4 separate regions of the Homo sapiens genome follow, and regions 1, 2 and 4 are each linked to region 3. The links come from fine-mapping of genetic effects on gene expression. A gene starts in region 3. Each other region holds a variant in brackets. All regions are shown on one strand. Distances are between the middles of the regions. Region 1 overlaps SUMF1 (sulfatase modifying factor 1). Region 2 holds the start of SETMAR (SET and mariner transposase domain methyltransferase). Region 3 holds the start of SUMF1 (sulfatase modifying factor 1). Region 4 overlaps SUMF1 (sulfatase modifying factor 1).

Region 1 (8,107 bases), 22 kb before region 3:
TCATGAGTAATTCATGATTAATTCATGATTATTACTTCGATAATAATACTCTGTTTTAAACCATTAAATTCACCAGTTTAAGATATTTTTACACACAAACTCTGAAAGCTAGCTCAATGTTTTACCTCAAAACTACATAAAAAGAAAACTAGCTGAGATGGCAACAGCATCAGCAAAGCTTTTGAATCTCGCCTCTCTACGTATAAAACCAGACAGAACAACTAGAGAGCAATACCCAAAACCCAGGAACAATGTGCACAGCAAATCCATGTGACAAAGTATCCTCACCAAACCCAGAACGCAAACAGGTGAAGAAAAACCGCCAACGGCCATACAACCTGCATGGTGTCTGTGGCTGGGCAGTGGTTGGGCAGGAGAAAGAAAAGAAAGCAACAGGAAATCAGACCTGTGAAAAGGAAAATCCCAAAAGAGCCAACAGGCATTACTGGAAAGCATGGAGGGACAGTTTGACAACAGTAGCTCACACTGGAAGGAATTTTGCCCACTCCAATAAGGAGTAGGTTTAAGGGGCCCATGGTAAGAACGTGTGAAGGCACTCAAACAGTTGTGCACCATGAACTCTTTTTTTTTTTTTTTTGAGACGGAGTCTCGCTCTGTCGCCCAGGCTGGAGTGCGGTGGCGCGATCTCGGCTCACTGCAAGCTCCGCCTCCCGGGTTCACGCCATTCTCCTGCCTCAGCCTCCCGAGTAGCTGGGACTACAGGCGCCCAACACCACGCCCGGCTAATTTTTTTTTTGTATTTTTAGTAGAGACGGGGTTTCACCGTTTTAGCCGGGATGGTCTCGATCTCCTGACCTCGTGATCCGCCCGCCTCGGCCTCCCCACCATGAACTCTTGAAACTGACCTGCCAGGGTTCCCTTCCAGAATAGAGCCTCACACCAAGGAGAAATCTCAAGAGACAAAACCAAACTCCTGAAATAGAGGGACAAGAGAGAAAAAGGAAAAAAAAAAAAAAGAGAGAGAAAAAGGAAAGAGAAGTAGTGGAGGAGGGGAAGAAATCCAGGACATCTCAGAAGACAGGAGGCCATCGTTTAAACACTATGTTGAGAACAACTAAGAGGGAGTTCAGTGAAGTTACAAAGCTACCCTGAACCATGTCTCTTTCTAAAAGTTCAGAAAAACTGAGTTCAAATGCAAATGAGCAACAGAAAAGACTCAAGCTCAAATGCAATCCAAATTTCTATAAGAAGTAAGAGAAGAAGCAGCAGAACAACATCCTTATGAATAACAAATGCAGTCAGGAAGAAATGCTCAAAAAAAAAAAAAAATCACAACATGGTGTTTTAAAATGAGGTAGGCCGGGCATGGTGGCTCATGTCTGTAATCCTAGCACTTTGGGAGGCCAAGGCAGATGGATCACCTGAACTCAGGAGATCGAGACCAGTCTGAGCAACATGACAAAACCCTGTCTCTGTTAAAAAATACAAAACATTAGCCGGGCGTGGTGGCGGGCCCCTGTAATCCCAGCTACTCAGGAGGATGGGGCAGGAGAATTGCTTGAGCCCAGTAGGTGGAGGGTACAGTGAGCCAAGATTGCACACCGCACTCTAGCCTTGGTGACAGAGCCAGACTCTGTCTCAAAAAATAAAAATTTAAAAAATGAGGTAAATGGCATGAAGAAAATGATGCAAGAGAGAACAAAATAAATCAGAATCCACAAACTCAGATGAGGTAGAGAAGTCAAGTAGCAACTAGAAATAAAATAAAAAGTCATTTCAGAAATAAACAGATAATTAAAAGACACAGAAGACAAAAGAGAAGAAAAAATTAAAATAAAAAGAAGAGGCCAGGCATGGTGGCTGATGCACGTAATATCAGCACTTTGGGAGGCTGAGGTGGAAGGATTGCTTGAGCCCAGGAGTTTGAGACCAGCCTGGGCAAAATAGTGAGACATCATCTCTACTAAAAATCAAAACAATTAGCCAGGTGTGGTGGCATGTGCCTGTTGTCCCCACTACTTGGGTGGCTGAGGTGGGAGCATCACTTCAGCCCAGGAAGTCAAGGCTGCAGTGAGCCAAGATCGTGCCACTGCACTCCAGCCAGTGTGACACAGCAAGACCCCTTCTCAAAAAAAGAAAAAGAAAAAAGAGAGAGAAAAAAATGATTAAAAAGAAAGTGATAAACACTGAAAATGGGTAAAAAGAATTATGTAAAGAAAGATATAAGAAGTTCCTAAAGAATAAAACAAAAGGACACACAAAATAGTAAAAAGTATAACAGAAAAATTTCCTGAAGTTTAAAAAAAAATTGTGAAACTAGATATTGAAAGCTTCTACCCCATACCTGAGAATACTGACCCAATGACAAACACCAACACACAGTCTAGTGAAATCACTGGATACTAAAGAACAAGAAAAAGGAAAATCGTTGGGTATTCAGGCAAAAACAACTAATTTTCAAGGGAAAAAAATCAGATTACCATCAGGCTTTTCAATAGCAATGCTTTATTCCAAAAGAAAAAAAATAAAGTATGTGAGCTACTCAAGAAAAATAAATGTGAACCAAAGATTTCATATCCAGAAAAGTTGACTTTAAAGTATAAAGAGCACTAACAAACTGTTATCAACGGGCAAAAACTCAGGGCATATTGTTCCCATGGCCACTTCCTGAAGAATCTAGTTGAGAATGAGCTTGATCAATTCAAATGACTAGAGAGACATGATCACAGAGAGTATTAAACATGTATAGTCACTTGTAGAACTGAGATTAGTTGAGAGCTAAAATGGAAAGAGTACTCTCTATAATGGACATATGTTTCAATAATACAGAAATAGTACAGTATTTTAAAACTAGGGGAGAAACAGGAAAAGCATATATAAATGTTTGGGAGTTTTAAAAACCTATTCTCAGTAATTACACTGGGGATGGTAGCATTAGTATTATTGAGACCACTGTGTATGTAACCTGGGATAAAATAAATGCGTGATTATAGACTAGTCTATCATCCCCTGTGTCCTTGAAAACCAGTATTCCTGCTGTGGAAGAAAGGAGATAGATGTAATACAGAACAGGTTAAACTAAAAATCACAAAATGGAAGTATCAGTGTATACTCATTTTGGCATTTTATCTCAGTCTGTCCACTGCAGAGGCCTAGAAACAATGACCAACCTAATAGCAATGAGCATACCCAGGGCCTAGACAGGGTCCTCGAAATACTGTTTTCTACTACAAGATACTAGAGCTTCTTAAAGAAATGGCTTTAAGGATGAGGGGTAGGGGAGGGAGCAGATCTTGGCCTCACAAAAAGCAAAGCTATGAAGCCATGAAGCCATGAAGGACTACTAGGACTGAAGCACTGCTAGGACTCAGGACAGTTGCTTAAAGCTGGGGATGGGAATCGGTAATGACCACAAATGGGCATGTGGTTTCTTTTAGGGCTGATAGATATGTTCTAAAATTAGATTGTAATGATATAGATAAATTTTTGATACAACCCCAAAATAAGTGAGTTGTATCAATGGTCAGCTTTCTAGTTGTGAAACTGGACTATATAAAAAATATGGAATTATACACTTAGTATGGTAAAACCTATGGTATGTAAATTACATCTCAATAAAGCTGTTGGAAAAAAAGATATGCCCAAACCTTCAAAAGGGATCATGGTTTCAGTGTAAAATAAAATATGGCTTGTTTTTGTTTTGTTTTGTTTTCTCCCCAGAGACAGGGTCTCACTCTGTCACCCAGCCTGGAGTACAATGGTGCCATCACAGCTCACTGAAACCTCGAACTCCTGGGCTCAAGTGATCCTCCCACCTCAGTCTCCTAAGTAGCTAGGACTATGAACACATGCTACCATACCTGGCTAATTTTTTGTATTTTTTGTAGAGATGGGGTCTCTCTCTCTCTCTCTTGCCCAGGCTGGTCTTGAACTCCTGGCCTCAGGTGAACATCCTGCTTCGGCTTCCCAAAGTGCTGGGATTGTGGGCATGAGCCACCATGCCTGGCCATAAAATATATTTAAATCCA[T/C]GAGTTCATGAAGACTTTTTTAAATCCAGTGATTACACAAATCTACATTTGTGGCAAAATTGTACAGAACTAAATATATACACAGACACACAAATGAATAATATAAAACTGGTGAAATCAGACAAAAACAAGTGGGTCATATGAATGCTCAATTTTCCAGCTGTGAAACCGTACTATAGTTATATAAGATGGTACCATTGGAGGAAACTGGGTGAAAGGTACACCAGATCTCTCTGTATTATTTCTTACACTGCATGAGAACATATAATTATCTTAAGATGAAATATTTAATCAAAAAATACTCTAATTGGTCACCTTTGAAGAACAGTAGGGAACCAATTCATTATCTTAAAAGCTAGTAAAGAATCAAGCATTTATCCTATCTGTCCTGTATGACCTGCAACAATGGTTAAGAAATAGTAGATGATGGAACTATCTCTTTATGAAAGTATCTCCATTAATAAATGAAAAAGATTAGATTATCACCATCTAATATGGTTTGGCTGAGTCCCCATCCAAATCTCATCTTGAATTATAGCTCCAATAATCCCACCTGTCATGGGAGGGACTCAGTGGGAGGTAACTGAATCATGGGAGCAGGTTTTCCTGTGCTGTTGCCATGATAGTAAATAAGTCTCACGAGATCTGATGGTTTTATAAAGGGCAGCTCCCCTGCACAAACTCTCTTCCCTGCCACCACGTAAAACGTGCATTTGTTCCTCCTTCACCTTCAGCCATGATTATGAGGCCTCTCCAGTCATGTGGAACTGTGAGTCCATTAAACCTCTTTTTCTTTATAAATTACCCAATCTTGGGCATGTCTTTATTAGCAGCACGAGAAGAGACTAATACACCATCTTATGATAGCCCCCAATGGATTAATGGATTAGGTACTAAGCATCAACAGCCGCTAACATTATAAAAAGAAGAAGCACCAGACATCAGGTGCCTCATGGGGAAAGAACCCACCAATTATCTGATGTCTTACTGTAGGGTTCAAACCTGAGTCTGATCACACCTGGGGATCCAGCTACCAACTTGCAGGAAATACAGAGGACAGAGAGAACAGATGAACTGCACCATGACAGGGCATTCAGCAAAATCCAGACTGCAGGAAAGTCTCCAGGCTAAATGTCCTAGATTCTTCAATAGATAAATCATTGTAGGAAAAACTAGGGGGTAAGGGGAAGCAACACAATGAAAGGGAAACCTGTAGAAGAGTCTTAAAAGACACAAATTTCCTTTAAATTAGCAAGATTAAACTTTGCATGTACACCTGGGTAATAATATTATAAAGAAATGCAAAGAAGTGTCTACTTTGAGAAGCAGGGTACTGGCTACTTTAGGGACAGAGAGGGGTGATGATTAGGATGTGGCACCTGGATGGGGCTGCTGGGGTAGGCAGAAAAATTCTAATTCTGGACCTGGGTAATGCTTACAGGTACGTTCACCTTAGGATAACTCAGTAAGCTGTACATTTGTGTTGTGTGATTTTCTGTATTTGTCTTATTTTACCAAAAAAAGATTTTTTTAAAAAAAAAGGAGAATTTATCTCGCTTTTATAACCTGTCATAAATAGAATGCAACACTTAAAATAATTACATGAAAATAAACCATATTATTAACTAGCTGTGGTAGCCTGAGGACACTTCCAAGGCCTCTTCTATGTTAAAAGGAGAGTAAAAGTGTAGTCAAGTACTAAGGATATGCTAGCACTCAAACTTGCAAGATTCAGGTCTTTCTTTCTAACTTAATCAAGTCTTGAAAGACACCTAAAAGGAAAGTGCTTTCTCACTATGTGATTCAGTGAGATTGGAGGCTTGCCAATCTACCACCCAAAATCATCTCCCCTACTGCTCAAATTTACCTCGTAGGCCAACTCACATCTTACTCTTCTGGAGACACTGGGTTACAAAAAAAAAAAGGTCTGGTGCAGTGAATGAAGGTAAGTCAGACCTTATGAGGAGGATGAAAAAACAAAAACTTAGCTCTCCCTGATCATTGACACATTTATGTTACTTGTTCAGCCCTTTCTAAATAAGCTTAAAAGGTTTGCTTTTCCATTATCAGCAGTTAAGCAAGTGACCAACACTACAACCCAGTGAGAGCTGCCTGTCCTCATCCTAGTCACAAGCACACACACTTTACTATGTACTCAACAGGCACCTTCACAGCCTAGCAATGACCCACCTCTGTCTTCATACCTAATGTGTTTGGAGGTTCTCAAGTGACAAGAGGCCCTGTATCTGAAAAGGCAAATTACAAAAATAAGCGCAAACGCCCACCCTCACCTGAACTCAGTATCTTAAAATAAGGCACATGTCCCAAGCTGCTGGCTAATCAACACCAGCCTCAACTGACCTCAAAGCCCTTTAAAAAAAAAAGTAGGGCGGAGGGGAATATCAGATTACATATTAGACTTATAAACTTGTAAGGAGCAAAGAAAGCTGTGAAATTCGAATGGAGCTCAATCACATTTTTCAAACATTTATCTAAAACACATATTAAAAAGTGGCTCAATTCACCTATATATGATCTGAAAGCAAGTCTTGTTTTACCTCACCGTTTCCCCCACATTTTTCTATATTAAAGAGAAAGCAAACATAAGCCAGGACAGTTTCGTTTTTCTTGCACTGCACTGCTGCTCACGAGAGGACAGAGTGAGGCCCACCCACAGAGATGAAGCGCAGACAGGAGCTAAAAGGTAACTTGCATTAAAAAGGAAGATGAGGGCTGGATTCCTTCGTCTTCAATGCCTCTAGCTTCATCAGCCTCCCTGGAGTGGGCAGACCCCCGTTTCCTTCCCTCTCTCACCATCTCCTATCCCTTCTGCATTCTCTACCCTCTTTGTTTTGTGAACCCTCAACTTCCCAGCTTACCCTCACTCCTTCCCTTGTTCTTATATTTTCAAGAGACATGTAAGCAAGCAAATACTCCAACATACACAAACCTGCTAAAATGTCTGGAACAAGAATCCCAAGTTCCACTCATCACAAAGCTGCTTGTGAAAATCTACTCCACCGTTTGTTTCCATGTCTGAGAAAAACACACCTCATCTGCATTCCCTGGATCCTCCATATGGGAGGGTACACCCCTGCATGTAAAGAACCAGTTCACCACCTCCATTTTTCATGAACATTCAGAACAAAGGGCTCCTTTCTTGAGTGCTACTCTGATCCCATGAATTCAAAAATGTTTAAGGAAGCTCTATCTCCACACCAGCACCTGAGGAGATGGAGACTTTTAGAATAGAATTTTAAAATGTTCTCATTGAGCCCTCCATTCTAGAAATGGCTATAAGTAAATGAAACTCGGAAGTGTCTGGAGCCTACTGAGCTCTACCTAGCAACACTGTGTGTTCCTTGGCACACAAGACAGAAACTCAAGGCAGACCCATCACTTCCTCAGATACCATCTTGTCCCATTTTCCTTAAGATAAGGTGTCCTGGTCCATGGGCCTATTATTTGGGGTCAATCCTCAGCAGGAGAATGGTTAGGTGTTACAGGGAGAGGAAGGTGACACATGTGGTTTGGATTTTTCACCCAAACCCTTTTCAATGAGCCTTAGAGAAATACAGGAGCCTGTTGAAACATTACTTACTGCCTGTTGAATATTGGTCTTCACTTGCTCACTCAACATGCCTTCAAAGACAAAGGAGTCGCCAAACTTCTCAGCCTATAAGGAAGGTAGGAAATAAAAATCCAGAAAAGGTTGTAGTAATGTGTTGCATGTGTGCCCTTTTCTCTCCACACTATTAAAGTGATTCCTCTTGTCCAATTGAACTTGAGTCTTTCTTATGACTTCCCAGAGGACTCAGAAATGACCTAAAAGTCTCTGGCTTCCTCTTAAATTAATGTCACTTACAGAGACCATTTTCGTTTAAGACTCACTTAGCTGATAAGAATGCAGACTGAACAAGATTAGCTTTTGAGAACGTGACTGTTCTTGAAGGAAATACATTTCCCCAAGTATCACAAATGACTCTGGGAAATAGTATTCTGTACGTGTGAGATTACATAATCAATCTTTGTCCTTTGTCCTGAATCTAGCTAAACGAATTAAATAGCACTGTTTGCTCACATTCTGACACATTCTAGTTCCACTAAGGGGTCAAATG
Region 2 (8,107 bases), 160 kb before region 3:
TTCACCTTCTACTATGACTCAAAGCTTCCTGAGGCCTGCCCAGGAACCGAACAAATGCCAGCACCATACTACCTGTACAGCCTGCAGAGCCATGAGCCAATTAAACCTCTTTTCTTTATAAATTACCTAGCCTCAAGTATTTCTTTACAGCAACACAAGAAAGTTTTTATATCAGATGTGTACTCAAAAAAGTTTTTATATCAGATGTGTACTGCAGTGCAAAATTATGTGATTTTATACATGCTCATGAATAGCACATTTATAAGGCTGATCTTTAATTTCTGTTCTCAAACCTATTAATGCCAGGTATAACTGTTATTATAATTTTATGAAAAAAGGATGATGAACTATGAGTGCAAAGAGTTTCTCCCTTCTGGGATAACTAAGTAGAACATTCTGTAAAGACTTGGAGAAAAAAAAGCAAGTCACTAAAAAATGTTTTGCCCTTGAAGTGGGTGTGAGTGAGAAAAGTATAAAAGACTAGGGAAAGAAAACAGATCATGATATCCCATTGCTTCACTATCCTTTAGTTCCCACCCCACTTTAAAGACACCAAAACTGGAACTCAGAGTAAGCTTGACCTGGAGCTCTAATCAGTAGAAAACAAACATACAGAGACACACACACACACACACTCTAGCTCTCCTTCTCTTTTGGCCCTACATCAAAAGACTAGCATATAAATGTACCAAAATCATTTAAGTTAAAACAAAATGTTTCTCTATCTATCTATCTCCCCACCCTCCACCAATATATATATATATAATTTTTATGAGTTCAATAAGATGGTTTTGCCTGTGCTTACATTAAATAGTTGCAGGGAACATAAGAAATGGCTTATAAAGTAGGAGAACTAATGTAAAGAGGGTAACCAATGCTAAGGGAAACAGGGTAAAGAAAGATACAGAGAAGGGACTACTTGAGCTGAGCAGACAGACAGTCCTGGGTAAAGGCACTGGAGATACAAGAACAATGTGGACAAAGGCCCAGAGGCCCAAGTAGAATGGCTTTTTGAGGGAATGTCAACAGAACAAGGGGTTCCAACAGAGAACAGCAGCAAAAGAGACCAAGGAAATAGGTAAAGTCTGGGTCCTCAAAGGCTCATAAGACAGAATATAGAAGGTAAACTTTGAGAGAAAATGGAGCAAATAAGAATCTAAGCAGCAAAATATAATAACTGGACAAGGATCTTCAAAGGTCATTGTAGCAGCGGCAGTAAGGGTGATTTGGGGATATGGAGAATGACAGACTTAAAGCAAAGAACTTCCAAAGTCCAAGCAAGAAATGAGAGAGCCTAGGACTAAGTGAGAAGAGGCAAAAATGAGAACATGAAGGCAGAATCAACAAGACTTACCCACCACGTCCTTAGCTATATGAGTCTAGTGAAGTGAAGGAATACAGAGTAACTGGTTTGTTGCTTTAGTGGCTCTGTAGATCACAAATTATTTTCCCAGTTAACTTTAAAGAAGAAAAAGCAAGACTGGCAGAAGAAGTCAATTCAGATTATTTTGAGTTTGAGGAGCCTGTAGGACAGAAAACAGAAATGCTCAATCATTAGCTGAATATGCGTAACTGGATTTGAGGAGAAACGTCTGATCTGGGTTGGAGACTGGTGACCTAATCCTTTATATTTGAAGCCATGGGAGTGGATGTTATTAATGAGAAAGTTCAGGGAAGGGGAGCAAAGAAAAAGGTCAAGGGCAGAACCCTGAATCACACCCACTTTTCAGAAACAGTCAGGCAGGAAAACAACAAGAGGATACTAACAAGGAAAGGTCTGCAAGATGGAAACACATTTAGGCCAATGGGACCTCAGAAGCTGCAAGGTCAGAAGGGTTTGTGAACCCAAAATTATCTGAGACAGGTCTCAATTTAGAAAGTTTATTTTCCCAAGCTTAAGAATGCGCCCCCAACATAGCCTCAGGCAGTCCTGATGACATGTGCCCAAGGTGGTTGGGATACAGCTTACTCTCACACATTTTAGGGAGACATAATACATCAATCAATACATGTAAGATTGGTTGGATCTGGAAAGGCAGACAACGAGAAGCGGGTGAGGGGTGGCTTCCAGGTCATAGGTAGATTTAAAGATTTTCTGATTGGCAACTGGTTATTATCTAAAGACCTAAAATCAATAGAAACGAATGTCTGGGTTGCAATAAGAGGTTGTGGATACCAAATTTGATCGTGGAGATGAAGCCTCCAAGAGGTAAATTTCAGAGAACAGATTGTAAATGTTTCTTATCAGACTTAAGGTGTGTGTTGATGTTGATGCTGGCTGGCTTTTCCTGAATTCCAAAAGGAAGAAGGGCATAATGAGGCATGTTGGACCCCCCTTCCCATCATGGCCTGAACCACTTTCTCAGGTTAACCTTGGCAGAGAGGAGGGGTCCCTTCAGATGGTTTGGAGGATTGGAATTTTATTTTTGGTTTACAGTTTCAAGGAGAAGCAGGACAATCATGTCAGAGAGCTTCAGTGAGGTTGAAAATGCTCCACCGGATTCAGCAGTCTTGAGGCTATCAGAATCCTTTGGCAGGGCAGGGGTTTGGAGGGGTGAGGGTAGAGGGATGGAGAGGAGGGAAAAGGACAGGCAAAGGGGCACGGATACCTCCATCAGGGAGTGAGCATGCCCCCACACAAATTCCTTAAGGCACCCTGTGAGGCTATCGCCTTGGCACAAACCCTATCACATGTCAGTCAACTTCCCGGCAAGCCGCAGACCTTTAGAAACCTTGGTGTGCGTTTCCCCGCTCGGTTTAGAACGCACCCCTGCCTCCACTCCACAAACGTGCAGTGAGCCCTCAAAAACCTGGACAAATGACCTCACCTCGAAAGCCCCCTCTCTGATGCTCCCAGGAAAAACTAAAGCACCTCACTTTGTTTCGTCCGTACCTTACATGGTTTTGTAATTATCTGTGGTGCCTCTGGCTGAAATCAAAACGGGAGCCAGACCCAAAAAGTCAAGGAAGGGAAGCGCCTTCCAGGCCACTCCTGAGAAGAAACGAACTACAATTCCCATGAGGCGGTGGGGCCACGGGACCACAAGTCCCAGCATCCACCGCGCGGCCCAGGACTGTCAGGGTAGTGGGCGTTGCGTGAGGCGGGTAAATGTTCGCGGAAGCGGCAAAGACGACACGGCCTTGTGGGATGGCGGAGTTTAAGGAGAAGCCTGAGGCCCCGACTGAGCAGCTGGATGTCGCGTGCGGCCAGGAAAACTTGCCGGTGGGCGCGTGGCCCCCGGGGGCCGCGCCGGCGCCCTTCCAGGTAGGGGCGGGGCCAGGCGGCGCGGGAGGCGGGCGCGCGGCTCCCCCACGTGGTCTCCTCAAGCCGCCTCGCTGGGACGGCCTCCCAGTCGCGACCTTTTGTCTTCTCTTACAGCGCACCCGTTGGTGCGCGGGAATAGGTGTGCATGCCCCGGCCTGGGCCTTTTTCTGTTGACCCACGGCATCACCTTAGCAAGGGTGTTGTCCTTTTCAGTCCATTCCCTGAAGCGCAGAACCGGAGGCCTTGTGAGAACCTGGCTTTTTGTCCAGTCCTGTCCTCAGAACTCAAGGAGGCATCACGGGGGGAGTCATTTACCTCCCTGGTCTCAGGTGTCTCTCACAGGTAGGATAAGCCGTGGGGCCTATTAATGGATCGCAGCCGGTGTCGTGCATAAAAACAGCCCCTCGAGTCAGCCTTAGCTGTGGTCTCCCTCACGCTGTGGGCTCTTGGGCGAGTGTAAATTAGCTGTGGCTCAGCCTTAGAGTCTTCCAGCGTACAGTGGAACAGTACCTCTCTTCCGGAGTGCTTTGAAAATGGCAAGGAAAATACACTTTCCGGTTTGCTGTAAGAACTCAGTAAATGTTTGCTTCTATTAACTACCTCAAAGCCCTTTCTACTCTCCTTTTTCTTTTTGAGACTGAGTCTCGCTCTGTCGCCCAGGCTGGAGTGCACTGGCGCGATCTCGGCCCACCGCAACCTCCACCTCCCGGGTTCAAGCGATTCTCCTGCCTCAGCCTCCCGAGTAGCTGGGATTACAGGCATGGGCCACCACGCCCGGCTAATTTTTGTATTTTTAGTAGAGACAGGGTTTCTCCATGTTGGTCAGGCTGGTCTCGAACTCCCAACCTCAGGTGATCCGCCCGCCTCGGCCTCCCAAAATGCTGGGATTACAGGCATGAGCCACGCTCCCAGCCTCTACTGACTTTCTTATCCCTCCGACCTTGGCCTGAGCGTTACCCAAGGAATAAGGAATGACCAAAGATTTTGAAGTGGAAAGAGCGCTGGACGTGGAAGTTGGAGAGTATGGTTCGGAGCTTAGACATCTTAGCT[A/T]CTTCCCAGAGCCTGAGTTTCTTCATCTGCAAAATGAAAATAATAATTTAAAAATGCATAGCCCCTTTAACATCCATTATCAACAATGAACCCTATCTGCCCTTTCTTTTTCCTAGGGGTTTTTGTGAGGATCAGATAAGATAAGAGATTCAATAGCAGCTTTCAAAGATGTCAAGGAAAAGAATCAAACTCTAAAATATTTGAAGAGATTTATTCTGAGCCAAATATGAGTGACCATGGCCTGTGACACAGCCCTCAGGAGATGCTGAGAACATGTGTCCCAGGTGGTTAGGGCACAGCCTGGTTTTATACATGTTTGGGAGAGAGGAGACGTCAATCAAATACATTTAACATGTACATGGGTTTGGTTCAGAAGGCGGGGCAACTCAAAGTGGTGGGGGGGGCTTCCAGACTATAGGTAGATTTTAATTTTTCTGGTTAACAATTTTTCTGGTTAACAATTGGTTGAGTTTGTCTGAAGACCTGGGATCAATAGAAATGTTTAGGTTAAGATAAAGGGTTTTTTTTTGAGACGGAGCTTGACTCCATCACCCAGGCTAGAGTGTGGTGGTGCGATCAGCTCACTGCAACCTCCGCCTCCCAGGTTCAAGCGATTCTTCCACCTCAGCTTCCCGAGTAGCTGGAATTACAGGCGCCTACAACCACGCCCAGCTGATTTTTGTATTTTTAGTAGAGACAGGGTTTTACCATGTTGCCCAGGCTGGTCTCAAACTCCTGACCTCAAGTGATCCACCCACCTGGGCCTCCCAAAGTGCTGGGATTACAGACGTGAGCCACCGCACCCGGCCATGTAGAGACCCAAGTTTTAATTGTGGGGAGGAGACTCCCAGCTGACTTCAGAGGGAGCAGGTTGTAAAATGTTTCTTATCTAACTTAAAAAGGTGCCTCGGTCTTAGTTGATTATCTCCTTGTTGTGGAAAGAAAGAAAAAGAGGGGGAAAGGGGATTCTCTATAGAATGTGGATTTTTCCCACAAGAGACAACCCTCCAGGGCAATTTCAAGATATGGCAAGGAAATATATTTGGGGTTAAAATATTTTGATTTCTTCCCTTATTTGTTATTTGATGTTATGCCAGAGTCAGGTAGAAAGCAGACCATGCTATATAGGGTTAAAATTAAAACTCCTCTGATGAGACTTTATGGTTTGTAAGGCATGACTCCCCAGGTGCCTTGGGTAGGAATTTGGGCAAGATAAGAAAAAATCAGAGTTTAGTCCTCAAAGAGTAGAATAAGATATTAATGTCAGAAATTATTATTGTTCCCCAGACTACCTTTGGCAATTTATAGTTAATAATACAGTTAGCTGGCCCAATATTAAACAGTGGTCCCTGAAAACTTAGGACTAAGCATTGCTGAGTTCCTGGTCAAAAACACTGATTTAAAAAACCACTGTTCTAGTCCATTCTTAATTCAACAAATATTTATTGAGAGCTAAATATATGCAAGGTGGTGGGTTGGGCTGCAAAGAATACAACAAACAGAAAAACGCACTCTACCCTCAAGGTGTTTACAACTGTCACGATTAGCTTCAATATTCCTGCCGTGCGTGTGTGTGTGCGTTTGAGACTATTCTATAAATCTGTTTCCAATCTTGAGTCATATTTTTCTTTGCCATATCCAAGAACAATCTGTAAAACTATGTGCCCGACGTATTTTTTTAATTAACTCACTTTAAGCGTTAAATTATTTAAAAATAAATTATATAAGTATCTCCCTTAGAATCATTGTAATCATTAATGTCCATAAAATCATGAGGTTTTCTATTTCTCAAAGTGTATATTAAAATAAATACGTCTATTTTTAAAAGGGGAGAAAGGAGTGACAAGAGGAAGCTTTGTGATTGATTGTTACATCTACAGTTGGTGGGCATAAATGAAAATTGGGAGATTAAAACCCAGTCCCACAGTGTTCTAACTATCTCTGTATATGCACAGCTCCCAATAAAGTTAGAGTTACAAAAATAAGACAGGATGCCTTCCTAAGAGAGCTTATTGTCTTTCTTACCAAGAAGATCAAACATGCTTGAAACATTTAAGTGACAAGCCTAAAAGTGCATTCAACTCGTTTTCTTCCATGTATTCATGGAACACAAAACCAGTCTTATAAAAGGTCAAAACAGCTTGCTTGCTCCAAACCCTGCCTTCACAGGCATATGCACACATAAGAATTAAGGCATGAAAAACTTTCAAGATAAAAATAACTTTGTGTCTGTTTTGCCTTTGGCTACTGTGTGAAAAGGCAAAAAGAAATTCAAATGTTCATATTGGAAACAAGCATATCATAATGTCATCAGTGTTGAAAGCCAAGTAGAAAATAAACTAATTGATTTTATTGAGCTAACAGTTGGATCTAACCATTTTTCAGGTCTCTGAAACCAGCTTCAAACATTATTTTTAGATCTCAACAGGCCTTGACAAGAATTATCTGGCTCACAGTCTTCTAATAGCTGCTTGGAGGAAAAACAAACTTATGAGGCTAGAGGCCAAGTACAAAGATTCTTGTAGCTGGGGTTTCAACACAACCAAAAAAGGAATGAAGATTTTCACAACACTTCTTTATAATTCAGAGGCCCAGGTTTTAAGCCTAGAATGTTACAGTATCATACTTCAGTTTCTGGGTCTTCAGTACGGAATGTGATTCAGAAAAGTCAAACTTCTCGTTAACAAGTATCAAGAGCTGCAATCTGGCAATCGAAAAATGCTTCTTGAGCACCTGCTGTGTGCCTTGTCCTATGGATAGGAACCCCACCCCCATCACCATGCCACACTCGAAACCTCATAACCATGCTTTTCCCTGAGACACGTATCTGTTAGAAAGGTAAGACCTACACATTTAACACAATTAGAGAGCCCTACAATCTGTGTCATTTAGACCCTGAAGTTCATGCTATTAACAGTAAATGTAAGTCTAGTTCAGAGAAGAAAGAAATTGTTGCAGACAGGAATAGCCAAGACAAGAGTGTATTTTCTCTTAAGTTTTCTGTCAAAAAACTTGAAATCTTCACCCAGTGCTTCAAGGATCTGATTTCCAGTATATCATTTTGCCGTGATTGTTTTGCATTTATTCCTAGCTCTTGCATGAGTAATTCTGTGCTTTGATACATACGAAGAAAAAGTAAAACTTACATTGTAACAATGCAGGAAATTTAAAAAATCCCAGCCAGGCATGGTGGCTCACTCCCATAATCCCAACCCTTTTGGAGGCCAAGGCGGGAGAATCACTTGAAGTCAGGAGTTTAAGACCACCCTTAACAAAGGGCAACAAAGTGAGACCCCATCTCTACAAAAACATTTTATTTTAAATTAACCAGACATGGTGGTGCATGCCTGTAGTCCCACCTACTTGGGAGGCTGACCTTGAGCCCAGCAGTTGGAGCCTGCAGTGAGCTATGATCATGCCATTGCACTCCAGACTGGGCAGCAACGTCTTAAAAAAAAAAAATCCCATTCTCCGTGTCCTTTATACTTTTCTGACTGTTTCTAAATCCCAGTATGTGCATATTGCAGACAGTAAGGTAATACTTGATAACTGAAAGAAGTCTAGTCTGGATCAGCTCTTAGCTTTTCTCCACTCAAATGGAGAAGTAATGGAGGAAAGGTATACAGTCCGATGGCTTCCTAGACACAATTTTGGTTTGAATATGTTTGAACCTGGAAAGTTTAACTCCAGAACTTATTTTCTTCACTACCCTACTATGCACTACCTGCAAAATTTTTATTGAACACGTACATGCTAATCCCTAGAGTAAGCTTTTTAAGCCAGTTCTGTCAT
Region 3 (8,107 bases):
CTCAGACAGGAAATCAAGACTGACTTTATCCATATGTACAGACATGCCACCTACAATCTTAGCATCCCATGATCCTAAATGCCTTTCAAATAACTCTTCTAAAAGATAAAAGCAGACTAAAACATTTTGCTTCCTTGTTACAAAATCATAACCCACGCAGAAAACTATTAGGATAATTTTCTCAATGAGAATCATATTTTTATAACCAGAGGGAATACACATTAAATTTTTAAACATCTATATTGTTTCCCAGACAATTCTAATCGCCATAACTTTCTAGTGAAACTGAAAATTTCTTGAGGGCAAAGCCCAGTGTTATTTCTCTGTGCCCCTCACCTTGCCACACACACTCATTGTATGAATACACAAAAACAAAAAAAGACTCATCTAAAAAGTGTTACATTAAAAAGTGTGAACATGTCACTCCCAGATCTTAAATCACTTATGTTTCCCAGCACACACCACGCATTTCCACAATGTGCCATGTGTTGATACTATTCTCCTTCTTGGAATGTCCTTGAATCTGGAATTCCATTCCCAGCTCCGAAAAATATTTCCTCCAAGGCCTAGCTCAAATGTGGCCTTTTTTTTTTTGAGGCACTACTCGACTTGTCCATGAAGAATTAATTCTTTCTTCCTCTCCAGGTACTCTGGACATATCCCTCCTATAGTATTCTCACTATAGAAAAATGATACTTATGTGTGTGTCTGTGTGTGTTTGTGTGTGTGTGTGTGTGTGAGAGAGAGAGAAACACCTACCAGAGTGTAAATGCCATGTGGGTAGTGTATGGGTCTTTTTCTGTATGCCCAGCACATAGGATGAATCTTACATAACAAGTGTTATATAGTAATGTGCCAAATAAACATTTGTTTAATTAAACCAAATAAACAGAAAACAAAGAGGGGAAAAAAGGCAGAAACACCACTATGCTCATTTACTTCTCCTGAAATATTGGAGTTCCTGAATTTAGAATAAATGGTAAAGTGTCAGAATTAGACCAAAGTCATCTGCACATGAACTAAAACATTTGAAACCAAGGAAAATAGAGAGATTAAGAACAGCCTCCTATGACGTCATTGTCTTGATAACAAGACTGCTTCAGTTTCAGTCATTAAGTTCAGCCCTTGAAGGCTTGAAGGTATATTCTCATCAACCACTAATTTGTTAATAAATTGAGATGCCCCTAAGCATTGTAGAAAGCAGACTATAAGAACTGGCCAAAGATGGCCCATATAGCATCCAGTCAAGACACAAAACCACTCTATAGGGATGAAAAATGTACATCTTGTAAATGTAATCCAAAAGATTCTAACATCCACATCCCATTCTGGAACCCAGAGGAAAATAGAATGTTTAAAAATGAAAAATGTTCAATGCTTGCCAGAGGAATCTAGATAAAATTTTGAGACAGACCAATGTATATATGCAAATGAGATGGCTGCCCTATTAAAAAATAGATAAACAGATGTAAGGATTTCTCCTTAGAAAGAGGGACAGACTGGCTTGGCGCGGTGGCTCACGTTTGTAATCCCAGCACGCTGGGAGGCCAAGGCAAGCGGATCACAAGGTCAGGAGATTGAGACCATCCGGGCCAACATGGTGAAACCCCATCTCTATTAAAAATACAAAAATTAGCTGGGTATGGTGGCGTGTGCCTGTAATCCCAGCTACTTGGGAGGCTGAGGCAGGAAGGAGAATCATTCGAACCCAGGAGGTGGAGATTGCAGTGAGCGGAGATCGCGCCACTGCACTCCAGCCTGGTGACAGAGCGAGACTCCGTCTAAAAAAAAAAAAAAGAAAAGAAAAAAGAAAGAGAGATTGATTATCAATTACCAGGCAAGTTAGAGAGGAATTAATATCAAGTATGGCCAATACACACTAAAACAGTAATCAGGAGTCTTCAACACACAAAAGATAAACAGTACTGCAGGACATGCTCTAAGGGTAACAGGAAAAAAAGTAAAGGCCAAAAATTATACAGGATGGAAAAACAATGAGAAGCCCAGGTATCAACCTCCTACACTCTACACCTGAGAGACTAAATCATGGTCCTGACCCCATCACCCTCACAGTCCAGTTGGGGAGAGACATCAGCAGAAAAACATCTTTAATAATTGTTATGTCAGAATAAACACATAACTACTGAGGCAGGATACGGAAATATTGAAGGGGAGAGAAAGAGGAGATCAGGTAAAACCTACTGTGGATGTTACCTCTCACCTAAGTCCTAAATATTGGTCAGGATTAACCCAAAGGAAAGAAAAATGGAATGGGAAAAGGATAGTGTCTGCTAAGTAAACAAGAAGGAGCACTAGTTTAGGAGTCAGAAGACCTGACCTTTAGACCCATAAGTTGTTTCGACAACACATCAATATGCAAAATACCGGGCAGACAGATTGAAGTAACAGTTATTTCTTTCTTTCTTTTTTTTTTTCGAGACGGAGTCTCGCCCTGTCGCCCAGGCTGGAGTGCAGTGGCAAGATCTCGGCTCACTGCAACCTCCGCCTCCCGGGTTCCAGCAATTCTCCTGCCTCAGCCTCCCGAGTAGCTGGGATTACAGGCGCCCGCCACCACGCCCGGCTAATTTTTGTATTTTTAGTAGAGACGGGGTTTCGCCATGTTGGCCAGGCTGGTCTCGAACTCCTGACCTCGTGATCCGCGCGCTTCGGCCTCCCAAAGTGCTGGGATTACAGGCATGTGAGCCACCGCGCCCGGCCAGTAAGTTATTTATATATCCCGGCACCTAACACATACAGGCGCTAAGCAAGACAGATAAATAATAGCAATAAAACAACTACAGTTTGCTTAGCCCTTCCTAAGTGCTAAAGTGCTAAGAATAGCAGGATAAACAATTCAAGCCCTTGTCCTCAAGCAGAGTGTACTCGAGGAGACTACAGATAAGTATACAACAACCCTGGTGAAGATACTGAGACCCAGGATCCTAATTTATTCCGTTAATAAGAGAGGAAATGGTGATTTAAACCATAATTTGATTGCCTTAAAATTATGAGATCCTCATTAAGAGAACAGGTTGGAGGGAGAAAGAAATAGGGGGTAAAGAAGTAACAATAACCCTCAAACCAAACTCCCTAATGGTCAATTAAATGGAGTCTTCCGGTGAGGCACGGAGAAGGAACTCCTCATACGGGAACAGCAGGTGCTCGATTTGGGGTGTGGTTATAACCTTTACTTCCCTTCCTACTAGTGCCTTGCTTTGCCTACTCCAACCCCGTCCAGGAACCGAGCAGCCCCCACCCGCCTCGGAGGAATCGATGGAGCACCTTTGAGTGCGCGAGTTGCCGCTCTCCGGGTACGGGGCCCGGAGCGTTAGCCTCCCGCGAGTATCGGTGAGCGGCTGCCGAACTGCCATGGGCGCCAGGCCGCTGGGGCGTGCCGCAGCCGCAAGAACCCGCAAGGGACCCCGCGCCCGCACCGGTCCCGGCCTCCTGGCTCCCTGCCGCTCCACACAGCAGCGAGAGCAGCAGCAGCAAGAGGACGAGACCCAGCTCAGGGCAACGTCCACACACCAGCCCTAGTGCGGGCGCAGCCATGTTGTCCCGCGGGCCATGTGACCCGGTTGGTCACGTGGCTGAGCCCTCCTTAAAGGGGCAGAATTTTGAGCTGACTTACGAAGTGACCAGGAGAGTTGCTCTTCACCTTTCTTCAGGTACTTCTTTGGCGCTGCTGCTTGCCTGTGCTAACGTCAAAACGCAGCAAAACACAAAACTCCACAAAACTCAAGGCCTTCCACAGACCGTGCACCCCTTTATGATTTCTTGGTTGAAAAATAACAGTCAAATTTGCTGGGCATTTGGTAAGTGCCAGAGTACTATGCTAAGCACTTCACTTTTTAAAATCTCATTTAATCCTCACAAAGACCCAGTAATGGCGCGCTTGTAGTCCCAGCTAGTCGGGAGGCCAAGGCAGGAGAATCGTTTGAACCTGGGAGGCGGAGGTTTCAGTGAGCCCAGATCCCGCCACTGCACTCCAGCCTCGGCGACAGAGCAAGACTCCGTCTCAAAAAAAAAAGAGAAATACAATACGGAATCAGAATCCGTGGGGACTGGACACAGCAATCCAGGGTTTCACAAGCTCTCCAGATGATTCTAATCCACACTTAAGTTTAAGAACCACTGTTCTACAGTTCCGTAATCGAACAAAATGCAAAACCAAAACAAAAAGAAGATGAAGGAGAAACTTACAGATTAAAAAACAACATAGCAGGCCGGGCGCGGTGGCTCAAGCCTGTAATCCCAGCACTTTGGGAGGCCGAGGCGGGTGGATCACGAGGTCAGGAGATCGAGACCATCCTGGCTAACACGGTGAAACCCCATCTCTACTAAAAAATACAAAAAATTAGCCCGGCGTGGTGGCACGCGCCTGTAGTCCCAGCTACTCGGGAGGCTGAGGCAGGAGAATGGCATGAATCCGGGAGGTGGAGCTTGCAGTGAGCCGAGATGGCGCCACCGCACTCCAGCCTGGGGACAGAGCAAGACTCCATCTGAAAAAAAAAAAAAAAAAAAAAACATAGCAGCCAGCTGCAATATGTGAACCTTATCTAAATACTAATTCAAACCTACTGAGTTCAAAATTTTTGAGATAATCAGGGAAATTTAACCACTAAGTCAAATTATAATATTTGATAAAATTAAGGAATTGCTGTAAATTTTGTTTTTAGGCTTTTAGGAGTAATAATGGTATTTGTGGCTATATTTTTTAAAAGAATCCCCTCACTGAGGTACACACACACTCACTGAGGTATACACACACACACACACACACACACACATATATATATATGGATAAAAATATAGGCAGTCAAAGATTTGCTTCCCAAAAAATGGGTAATCAGGGTCTGGCTAAAGATGAAGCATGATTGGCCATGAGTTGATAACTGTCATAGCTGGTTGATGGGCATCTGGGTGTTTATTGCACTATTCTAATGTAGCATCTGTTTGAATTTTTTTAGCATAAAGAAAAGACCAGCCAGGCACCGTGTCTCAAGCCTGTAATCCCAGCACTTTAGGAGGCCGAGGCAGGAGAATCGCTAGAGGCCAGGAGCTTGAGACCAGCCTGGGCAACACAGCAAGACCTTGTCTCTACAAAAAATTAAGAAAATTAACTGGCCATGGTGACGCACACCGGTGGTCCTGGCTACTTCGGAGGCTGAGGCAGGAGGATCACTTGAGCCTGGTAGGCAGAGGCTGCAGTGAGCCATGATTGTGCCACTGCACTCCAGCCTGGGTGACAAAGTGAGACCATCTCTCAAAAAAAAAAAAAAGGCCTTTTCTCCTTGTTGACTATTTTACAGTTTGCCAAGGCCTTTCACACATTTTCTCATTTGAGATTACAACCACTTGGCAAGAAATGTATTATTACTATACTCATTTCAAAATTGATGAAGCTAAAAGGTCAATGCCTTAACCAAGGTTGTATGTATTTACTGTGCATAATATATAGTCAAGGTCTAGGTCAACGGTAATCTTTGTTCGCCTCCTTCAAATATCAGTCTCAGCACATGCTGTGTCAGCTGCGCTTCAGAGACCTGAACTTCTTTGATTCCTGGTCCAGCTATACCATTAGGCTATAACCTCCATGAAGGTAAGGCAGGAGCCTATTCGTTTGCCACTGTATCAGCAAAATCAGGCCAAGCCTGCACATGATCACTCAGTGAACATTTATTAAATTATGGATAAGTGAATGAACAAATGAAGTAACGATTATCTCTTTCTCTTAAGGGGAATCAAATTGTGGAGAAAATAATATAGGTCTTAGACTCACAAAGAGCTGTGGTTAAAGCTGGCCACTTTACATGAAGTATGACCTAGGCAAATTATTTCAGCTTTCTGAGCCTCTATTTCTTCGTGTGTGAAATGGGAATAATAATTCCTTTTTCTTATAGATTTTATGGGGATTAAATAACACAAAGTATATAAAAGGTGTAGCCTGGTACCTGACATTTAACATATCTCAAAAATAACTTTGCTATTACTAATCATTATGAAAGATGGAACTTTGTTGGTTCTCCAGGACGATCATTCTTTTGTCTCAGGCTAACTTTTTAGTCAATAATCAATGAGTATGAGATCGATGAGAGATTTCTCATCAATATTTTCCACTCTAATATTTTGCTCCTGTCAGTGAGGAGGCTTGTTCTAAAAATTAAGAGGTAAAAAGTCCAACTCAGCCATCAGCTCGTACGAATTAGTGTAATTATATAAAATATCTCTCACCCTCCGTCTCACGTGTGAGCTCCTTCTGCATTTTGTAGCCTTTCTTGCTCCTTCTATCTCATGAAGCTGGGAGGATGAAAGACCCCAGTCCTGAAAGCAGCTTGTCTGCTCACTGAACATCAAAGAGTTCAGCATGGCTACAGTGGAGTGAGCAAGGGGGAGAGAAGAAAGGAAAGGAGATGAGAAAGGTAACATTGGGCCAAGTCATGGATGAAAGGAGAACAGAAAGGTAACATTGGGCCAAGTCATGGATGTTCTGGTAAGCTTTTACTGTGAAAGTTGGTGCCACTGCAGTTTTGAGAAGACATCTGACACTCTTCCTGCTGAGCAGCATCAATTTTCCCTCCAGGTTAGAGGCTTCTCTTGCTTTCTGGTTCCTGAACACAGGGAATGCAAAGTGCCCTGATGGTAGCCATGGCTTGTAGTTCAATGGGACCCTGGTTGTGTCCACAGAAAGACAGCATCCCTTTGTGGATCAGGACCTGCAGCTCTGCAGAGCTCAGAGTTGCAGGGATGGGAGAACAAAATCCCAGTAAGTCAGTAGGAGTAATAGTAAGTGGGGCTACTTCTACTTCCACCTCTTGGTGGAACCTATATATTCTTCCTACGTGGGAACAAGTCTGACATCTCTAATTGAGGGCGTATACTGCATCCTTATAGATGGCCCCATCTTTGCAGGAAATTGCATCCAAGCTGGCGTTTCAGCTGTGCTTTCAGTAAGCCATTTTCACCCTTTATGAGGCCAGCTGCTTTGGGTTCGTATTGTAAGGGATAAAACCACTGGATTCTGTGATCATGGCCTACCCCTGCACCTCCTTCACTGTGAAGTGGGTCCCCGGTCAGATGTCATGTGGTGTAGGAATATATGCCTATGCATAAGGCATTCTGAAAGCCCTCAGACAGTGATGCTGCCTGAGGCTCTTGGAGTAGGAAAGGCACAAGTCAAAATGTTATCTACTTCACACGTGCAGGACACTTGGCTCCACTTTTTGGGTTTGATGAATAATGTTGATATGAACATCCATGTACAAGTTTTTGTTTGCACATGTTTTCATTTGTCTTCATATATACTAGAAGTGGGATTGCTGGGTCATATGGAAATTCTAACCTTTTGGGTTTGGGTTTAAAAAAAAAAAAAAAACAGGATCTTGCCCTGCTACCCAGGCTGGATTGCTGGAGTGCAGTGGCATGATCACAGCTCACTGCAGCCTCAACCTCCTGGGCTTGAGAAATCCTCCTACCTCAGCCTGCAGGATCACAAGCTGCTACCACGTCCAGGTCATTTTATTATTTTTTTGTAAAGATGAAGTCTCACTATGTTGCCCAGGCTGGTCCCGAACTCCTGGCCTCAAGTGATCCTCCTGACTTGGCCTCCCAAAGTGCTGGGATTATAGGTGTGAGCCACCACTCCTGGTCTTGTTTAACCTTCTGAGGAATTGCCAGACTTTTCCAAAGTGGCTGTACCATTTTACATTCCCACTAACAATGTATGAGCCGTCCAATTTCTCCATGACGTAGTTCATTCTTCCACCTCCTTCAGAGTAAAATCTCTTTGTCCTTTATCAGGCCCAGCCTACCCTCAGCCAGGTTATACTGAAACTTGACCCTGGCTATAACCTGGCAGCCACAAGAGGATGTAGAGGCACTTTCTTGGGGGTGGGAGGCTGTTGTTTTTAAGCAGGAAAAAAAAAAAGTTCTGGTATATGCAGTATTTTCCACATGTGGAAACTACTGGTTCTCAGTAGGGAGGCTACCTCTGCGAGCTCCCTCTGGGGTCCCAAAGGAGTCTGCAGAGCCACATTTCACAGGGCCATCCACCTAGATGTCCCTGCCTCACTTTTCAGGTTCCAGGCCCCATGTTTTTCCAACCAGA
Region 4 (8,087 bases), 110 kb before region 3:
TGTAAGAGTTCCTAAAACAACAACAACAAAAAACAAAACAGTTTTTTAATACTGCAACTGGCACATCGACCAAACGGTCTGCTCGGCTCCAACTGTTTATCTAAAGCAGAAATAGCTCACAAGTGATTAATAAACAGAGAATGGAGGACAGTAGAATGTGGAAGTCATGTTGGATCACATGTGGTTTAAAACATGTTTTGAAACAAGCAGGCACAAACCTTCTCATAATTTTAAAGAAAACCTTAGCAATATATGAAGACCTTCAGGAAAAAAAAATTTAATACCATGAAAGTGCCTTCTTTTAGTGCATCTAGTGATTTATTTAGTGGCTTCAAGAACTGCTACACTTTCCAGTGTGTTAAGCTCTGAAAAACTGACAGTGCAGATAAAGATGCTGCAAAGACACTGCCCACCTTAAAGTCGACTGATGGAGAAATCTACATCCCAGATCAGATTTTTTACTTTTGATGGACGTGATCTCCATTAGAAGCATATGTCCTGAAGGTCTTACACCTTGGAGAAGAAAGAAGGTGCCTCAAAACTTAAGGCTGCAAAGGATCAACTGGCTGTAATGCTGGCTGCAAATGCCAGTGGAGATTGAATTAGGCTACTGGTTTTGTTAGGATAGTTATTTTGTTAGTGCTGTGGTACAATGTACAAAGTTCCTTAAGTTTTGAGTAATCTGCCTCTACCCCAATTTTCCCCGTATGCCTCTATGTTTTGTGTACAATGTCACAGAAAGTGAGGCTTTTCAGGACTACACCTATGGCATTCAAACCGAACTTTTCTTAGTCCCATTTTGCTGGTCTGCTCGTATGTCACTATCCAACATTATAAAGTGTAGTGACTATAGCTATCCATAGTTTAGGGTACTCTTTAGTTGGTAACCCAGACATGTAGTTCTTAAATAAACGGCTTGTTAGGATGTCATTTTATTGTATTCATTTTTAGAGACAGGGTCTTGCTCTGTTGCCCAGGCTGGAGTACAGTGGCACAATCATAGTTCACTGCAGCCTTGAGCTCTTGGGCACAAGCGAACCTCCCACCTCAGCCTCTCAAGTAGCTGGGACTACAGGTACACACTGCCATGCCCAACTAATTTTGATTTTTCATTTTTTGTAAAGATGGGGTCTCGCTTTGTTGCTGTTATAACTCCGTGTTCACACTGCTATGAAGGAATACCCCAGACTGGGTAATTTATAAAGAAAAGAGGTTTAATTGACTCACAGTTCCACATGGCTGGGGAAACTTACAATCATGGTGGAAGGCACCTCTTCACAGGGTGGCAGGAGAGACAGTGAGTGCTGAGCAATGGGGGAAAAGCCCCTTGTAAAACCATCAGAACTAGTGAGAACTCACTCACTATCACAAGAAGAGCATGGGGGTTACTGCCCCCATGATTCAATTACTCCCACCAGGTCCCTCACACAACACCTGGGGATTATGGGAACTACAATTCAAGATGAGATTTGGGTGGGGACGCAGTCAAACCATCTCAGTTGCCCAGGCTGGTCTCAAGTTCCTGGCCTCAAACGATCCTCTCGCCTCGACTTCCCAAAGTGCTGGGATTATAGGTATGAGCCACCGTCCCCAACTTAGGAATTCATTTTAAATGCCTTCCAGTATTATGCTGCTGCTAGAAATGCAATTCTAAAAAGTACACCCAAAACACCAAAAATACTTACGCAATGTAACATTAACAAGACAAGAATTCAAAATAGACACACCATAAATATAACAATGTAAAAAATATATGCAGGCGGGAGGTAACAAGTAAAAACAAACTGTACTGGAGTAGGGTGACTTTAAAAATAAAATCTCTTATTTCCTACATTAATTATTTGCTACCAATGTTTGTTCTTTTTTTTTTTTTTTTTTGCCTGGGATTAATCATCAGTAGGTGGAAGTTTGTAGAGAAACATTTGATATCTACAAAATGAACCACAAATGTGGCTAAACGTGCCAGCTACATGACTTTTTTTTTTTTTTCTTTTTTTCCTGAGACAAAGTCTTGTTCTCTTATCCAGGCTGGAATGCAATGGCGCGATCTCGGCTCACTGCAACCTCCGCCTTCCAGGTTCAAGCAATTCTCCTGGCTCAGTCCTGAGTAGCTGGGACTACAGGCAAGTGTCACCACTCCTGGCTAAATTTTATTTTTTGTATTTTTAGTAGAAATAGGGTTTTGGCATGTTGGCCAAGCTAATCTCGAACTCCTGACCTTGAGTGATCTACCCACCTTGGCCTCCCAAAGTGCTGGGGTTACAGGTGTGAGCCACTGGGCCTGGCCTACATGACTGCTTTTCAAGGGAATTGTTTTAACATGTTAAGAGGCTAAGCACAAAAGTAGCATTCAAGTGTTGGTTAGACACTTTTGAATATTATTTGATTTAAACATTTCTTTCAAATGGCATGCAAGAAATGGCTTAGGGGTTCTCAGGACTGAGGAATCAGGATGGGAACTTGATAACAGGGACCTTAGGTTGAAAGCTATTGTTCTAAAACAAGGTGCTTTCCCGGCATGGGAAGCAAATGCTGGGTTTTACAAGACCACAAGTGAGGCAGTGCCTTTGACTTGGCATTATCTACTGTGGCAACAAGCAGCAAGGTCATGATAGGGTTACTGGTGGAATAGCCTTGCTTTTTGGAACAAAAATTCCCACAAATTACCCACATATCAAAGTTATCCATTAGCTAACAAACATGAACGTTTTCTAGCAAATAAAACACGCATATCACAAAGTCCTCTCTTTAAAAGAAAACATAAAGAAGAGAAAGAGAAAAGAAGCTGATGACGGTGAAGCCTGATTTAGCAGATACGTTTATTCAACACAGTGCATGATTCAAAGCATCGGATATTCCACAGCCAACAAGGTTTCCTATTCCCTATTACAAAATACCGGATACCCTGAATATAGCTCATTCAAGGTCCTCGTTCCTTTTTCCCTATATCTAGAATTAAACAGGTTTCCCCGTTTAGCGCACATTTCACGTTCGCTGAAGGCTTTGGGGAGAGGGGGAAACAGAGCTTATGACTGCCCCTCTGAACCAAAGGCACTTAATGTTAAAAGATAAAGCACAGTAGAGTCACCCCACAGACATTCCTATGTGTTCAACGGCTGAACTTCAGCATACCATCACCGGCCCCATGTGGGATTCATCATAACAACGTAAAAGACACTGATTTCCTTGGAAAAACAAAGTGCAGTACGAATATAAAGGAGTCACCACACCCCTCTTCCGAAAATAATACATAAGAGAACTCTTACTTTACATGATTAGT[A/G]TCACTCAAGGTTCACACATGGAAAAAATAGCTAAAAAATAATCTATAATAAATTCTCACTATGAAGTCACAATAGAATCTGATACCCTTTTTAGAACTGGTGAGTTGGAGAGACACCCAGAGGTCATGCTGTCCATCCCTTCATTTGATAGGGGAGGGCACTTGAGGCCCAGGAAGGTCAAGCGTCGGACCTGGGGTCTAACCCCTGTGGCAGAGCCTGCGTAGGACGCGGGCCTCCTGAAGCCTAGCTCAGGGTTCCCTCCACTCCCCTTCCTCTTTAAAGACTCTCAAAAGTAAAATATGGTGATGATCTCCAAAGATGCACCACACCATAAAGCACATGCACTGACCCAGGTCAGCAATTTGGTCTCACAAGGCGGTTCCTTTGGCCATTGGGCAGGTATGTAACCCACCTCAGGGTGGGAATTCTTTGCATGGGATCGTTCAAAGTTCTGAGAAAAGCCCAATGTAGGTCAGACACGACTGCTCCTTGGACTGGGGAAGACTTTCCTTGGTTGTCAGTCCATAGTGGGCAGGCGGTCGGCTGCACAGCGGAATCCCAGATTCGAAGCAGAGCTATCAGGTGTGTTCTGGCTCCGAGCAGCACAGCGATACCTGTAACAATAAGACTGTGTAGAGAGAAAGAGCAAGGTAAGTGCTACTGGGACTCTCAGCTGAAGGCTCTAACCCATCAGATGCATATTGCACCGGCTGTAGACAGTGCTTCCCCACAACCCTGCCTGTATGGATACTTAACATGTATGCTTTAAAAAGGGCAGCACATTCAAGAACTAACCACATATTTTCCAACGTCCTTCACCTTATAAATGTAACACGGATATAGTACAAAGATGTTCAGCATTAGATATAACAGCAAAAAAGAAAAATGTAACAACCAATGATTGCCTAAGTTTAGGCACATCCATATAATAGAAAAGTAAGCAGCCATTGAAAGTCATGTCTTTACATAGTATTTAATGACACAGGAAGTTTTCATGATAAAATGTTAAATGAGGCCAGGCGCACTGGCTCACACCTGTAATCCCAACATTTTGGGAGGCTGAAATGGGAGAACTGTTTGAGGCCAGGAGCTCGAGGCCAGCCTGGGCAACACAGCAAGATCCCATCTCTACAAAAAATTAGCTGAGCATGGTGGTGTGCACTTGTAGTCACAGCTACTCTAGAGGTTGAAGTGGGAAGATCTCTTGAGCCTGGGTGTTTGAGGCTGCAGTACACCATCACTGAGCCACTGTACTAAAGCCTGGGTGACAGAGCAAGATCTTGTGTCCAAAAAAAGAAAAAAAAACAGTTAAAATGAAAAAGGCAGAATATAAAGGTGTATATGTGGTATGACCACAGTGTAGATAACTACATGTGCCAAGAAGAAAAGACTGGAAGATTCCGAATGCACCACAATGTGCACAGTAGTTATCCCTCAAGCAATCTGAGTTTCATGTTTCCTATATGAAACCTATTCAGTATTCCAATACAATAAGAATATATATTAATTTTTGAAATTAAACCAAGTAATAAGTGATAGATGGCCACTGAAAAAATACTAAGAACAACACTAAGACACCATTTAATACCTAAATAATATTTATGATATTATTTATTATCTAAATCATATTTATGATATCATTTAATGCCAGTAGATCGGCAAAAAATTAAACAACAAGTCTAGGAACATCAAACATAGGAAAGGCTGTGGGACAACATTGCTTTTTAAAAATACATTGCTCTTCCATTTCTTTGTATCCTCTTTTATTTCATTGAGCAGTGGTTTGTAGTTCTCCTTGAAGAGGTCCTTCACGTCCCTTGTAAGGTGGATTCCTAGGTATTTTATTCTCTTTGAAGTAATTGTGAATGGGAGTTCACTCATGATTTGGCTCTCTGTTTGTCTGTTATTGGTGTATAAGATTGCTTGTGATTTTTGTACATTGATTTCGTATCCTGAGACGTTGCTGAAGTTGCTTATCAGCTTAAGGAGACTTTGGGCTGACACAATGGGGTTTTCTAGATATACAATCATGTCATCTGCAAACAGGGACAATTTGACTTCCTCTTTTCCTAATTGAATACCCTTTATTTCCTTCTCCTGCCTAATCGCCCTGGCCAGAACTTCCAACACTATGTTGAATAGGAGTGGTGAGAGAGGGCATCCCTGTCTTGTGCCAGTTTTCAAAGGGAATGCTTCCAGTTTTTGCCCATTCAGTGTGATATTGGCTGTGGGTCTGTCATAGATAGCTCTTATTATTTTGAGATACATCCCATCAATACCTAATTTATTGAGAGTTTTTAGCATGAAGGGTTGTTGAATTGTGTCAAAGGCCTTTTCTGCATCTATTGAGATAATCATGTGGTTTTTGTCTTTGGTTCTGTTTATATGCTGGATTACATTTATTCATTTGCGTATATTGAACCAGACTTGCATCCCAGGGATGAAGCCCACTTGATCATGGTGGATAAGCTTTTTGATGTGCTGCTGGATTCGGTTTGCCAGTATTTTATTGAGGATTTTTGCATCAATGTTCATCAAGGATATTGGTCTAAAATTCTCTTTCTTGGTTGAGTCTCTGCCCGGCTTTGGTATCAGGATGATGCTGGCCTCATCAAATGAGTTAGGGAGGATTCCCTCTTTTTCTATTGATTGGAATAGTTTCAGAAGGAATGGTACCAGTTCCTCCTTGTACCTGTGGTAGAATTCGGCTGTGAATCCATCTGGTCCTGGACTCTTTTTGGTTGGTAAGCTATTGATTATTGCCACAATTTCAGAGCCTGTTATTGGTCTATTCAGAGATTCAACTTCTTCCTGGTTTAGTCTTGGGAGAGTGTATGTGTCGAGGAATTTATCCATTTCTTCTAGATTTTCTAGTTTATTTGTGTAGAGGTGTTTGTAGTATTCTCTGATGGTAGTTTGTATTTCTGTGGGATCGGTGGTGATATCCCCTTTATCATTTTTTATTGGGTCTATTTGATTCTTCTCTCTTTTCTTCTTTATTAGTCTTGCTAGCGGTCTATCAATTTTGTTGATCCTTTCAAAAAACCAGCTCCTGGATTCATTAATTTTTTGAAGGGTTTTTTGTGTCTCTATTTCCTTCAGTTCTGCTCTGATTTTAGTTATTTCTTGCCTTCTGCTAGCTTTTGAATGTGTTTGCTCTTGCTTTTCTGGTTCTTTTAATTGTGATGTTAGGGTATCAATTTTGGATCTTTCCTGCTTTCTCTTGTGGGCATTTAGTGCTATAAATTTCCCTCTACACACTGCTTTGAATGTGTCCCAGAGATTCTGGTATGTTGTGTCTTTGTTCTTGTTGGTTTCAAAGAACATCTTTATTTCTGCCTTCATTTCATTATGTACCCAGTAGTCATTTTTGTTCAGTTTCCATGTAGTTGAGCGGTTTTGAGTGAGTTTCTTAATCCTGAGTTCTAGTTTGATTGCACTGTGGTCTGAGAGACAGTTTGTTATAATTTCTGTTCTTTTACATTTGCTGAGGAGAGCTTTACTTCCAACTATGTGGTCAATTTTGGAATAGGTGTGGTGTGGTGCTGAAAAAAATGTATATTCTGTTGATTTGGGGTGGAGAGTTCTGTAGATGTCTATTAGGTCTGCTTGGTGCAGAGCTGAGTTCAATTCCTGGATATCCTTGTTAACTTTCTGTCTCGTTGATCTGTCTAATGTTGACAGTGGGGTGTTAAAGTCTCCCATTATTATTGTGTGGGAGTCTAAGTCTCTTTGTAGGTCACTCAGGATTTGCTTTATGAATCTGGGTGCTTCTGTATTGGGTGCATATATATTTAGGATAGTTAGCTCTTGTTGTTGAATTGATCCCTTTATCATTATGTAATGGCCTTCTTTGTCTCTTTTGATCTTTGTTGGTTTAAAGTCTGTTTTATCAGAGACTAGGATTGCAACCCCTGCCTTTTTTTGTTTTCCGTTTGCTTGGTAGATCTTCCTCCATCCTTTTATTTTGAGCCTATGTGTGTCTCTGCACGTGAGATGGGTTTCCTGAATACAGCACACTGATGGGTCTTGACTCTTTATCCAATTTGCCAGTCTGTGTCTTTTAATTGGAGCATTTAGTCCATTTACATTTAAAGTTAATATTGTTATGTGTGAATTTGATCCTGTCATTATGATGTTAGCTGGTGATTTTGCTCGTTAGTTGATGCAGTTTCTTCCTAGTCTCGATGGTCTTTACAATTTGGCATGATTTTGCAGTGGCTGGTACCGGTTGTTCCTTTCCATATTTAGTGTTTCCTTCAGGAGCTCTTTTAGGGCAGGCCTGGTAGCAACAAAATCTCTCAGCATTTGCTTGTCTGTAAAGTATCTTATTTCTCCTTCACTTATGAAGCTTAGTTTGGCTGGATATGAAATTCTGGGTTGAAAATTCTTTTCTTTAAGAATGTTGAATATTGGCCCCCACTCTCTTCTGGCTTGTAGAGTTTCTGCCGAGAGATCCGCTGTTAGTCTGATGGGCTTCCCTTCGTGGGTAACCCGACCTTTCTCTCTGGCTGCCCTTAGCATTTTTTCCTTCATTTCAACTTTGGTGAATCTGATAATTATGTGTCTTGGAGTTGCTCTTCTCGAGGAGTATCTTTGTGGTGTTCTCTGTATTTCCTGAATCTGAATGTTGGCCTGCCTTGTTAGATTGGGGAAGTTCTCCTGGATAATAACCTGCAGAGTGTTTCCAACTTGGTTCCATTCTCCCCGTCACTTTCAGGTACACCCATCAGACGTAGATTTGGTCTTTTCACATAGTCCCATATTTCTTGGAGGCTTTGTTCATTTCTTTTTATTCTTTTTTCT

Evidence for each region. PIP is the estimated chance that this variant, and not a neighbour inherited with it, causes the effect.
Region 1: its variant is fine-mapped to the expression of SUMF1 in lung (TOPMed, PIP above 0.99). The same link has a PIP of 0.9 or more in aorta, esophagus muscle, fibroblasts, gastroesophageal junction, pituitary and tibial artery.
Region 2: its variant is fine-mapped to the expression of SUMF1 in whole blood (TOPMed, PIP above 0.99). The same link has a PIP of 0.9 or more in fetal neocortex.
Region 4: its variant is fine-mapped to the expression of SUMF1 in whole blood (TOPMed, PIP above 0.99).

Annotation. Positions count from the first base shown.
Region 1 is chr3:4,441,676-4,449,782 of GRCh38, forward strand. It overlaps SUMF1 (sulfatase modifying factor 1), which reads right to left. Exons shown (of 9, transcript NM_182760.4): 3 at 7,591-7,665. Among named protein-coding and RNA genes, the nearest start is that of SUMF1, 22 kb to the right of the region's middle. The variant T/C (reference allele first, on the strand shown) is at 3,990.
Region 2 is chr3:4,300,262-4,308,368 of GRCh38, forward strand. SETMAR (SET and mariner transposase domain methyltransferase) reads left to right here and starts at 3,108. Exons shown (of 3, transcript NM_006515.4): 1 at 3,108-3,265. The coding sequence starts at 3,110. It also overlaps a transcript of SUMF1 not described here. RefSeq lists enhancers at 2,705-3,447, 3,476-3,545 and a silencer at 3,046-3,385. The variant A/T (reference allele first, on the strand shown) is at 4,316.
Region 3 is chr3:4,463,694-4,471,800 of GRCh38, forward strand. It overlaps SUMF1 (sulfatase modifying factor 1), which reads right to left and starts at 3,576. Exons shown (of 9, transcript NM_182760.4): 1 at 3,283-3,576. The coding sequence starts at 3,552. LOC124909340 (a long non-coding RNA gene) reads left to right here and starts at 3,131. Exons shown (of 2, transcript XR_007095789.1): 1 at 3,131-3,815; 2 at 4,971-5,706. RefSeq lists a silencer at 3,273-3,452 and an enhancer at 3,623-3,802.
Region 4 is chr3:4,358,346-4,366,432 of GRCh38, forward strand. It overlaps SUMF1 (sulfatase modifying factor 1), which reads right to left. Exons shown (of 9, transcript NM_182760.4): 9 at 2,801-3,909. The coding sequence ends at 3,799. Among named protein-coding and RNA genes, the nearest start is that of SETMAR, 59 kb to the left of the region's middle. The variant A/G (reference allele first, on the strand shown) is at 3,281.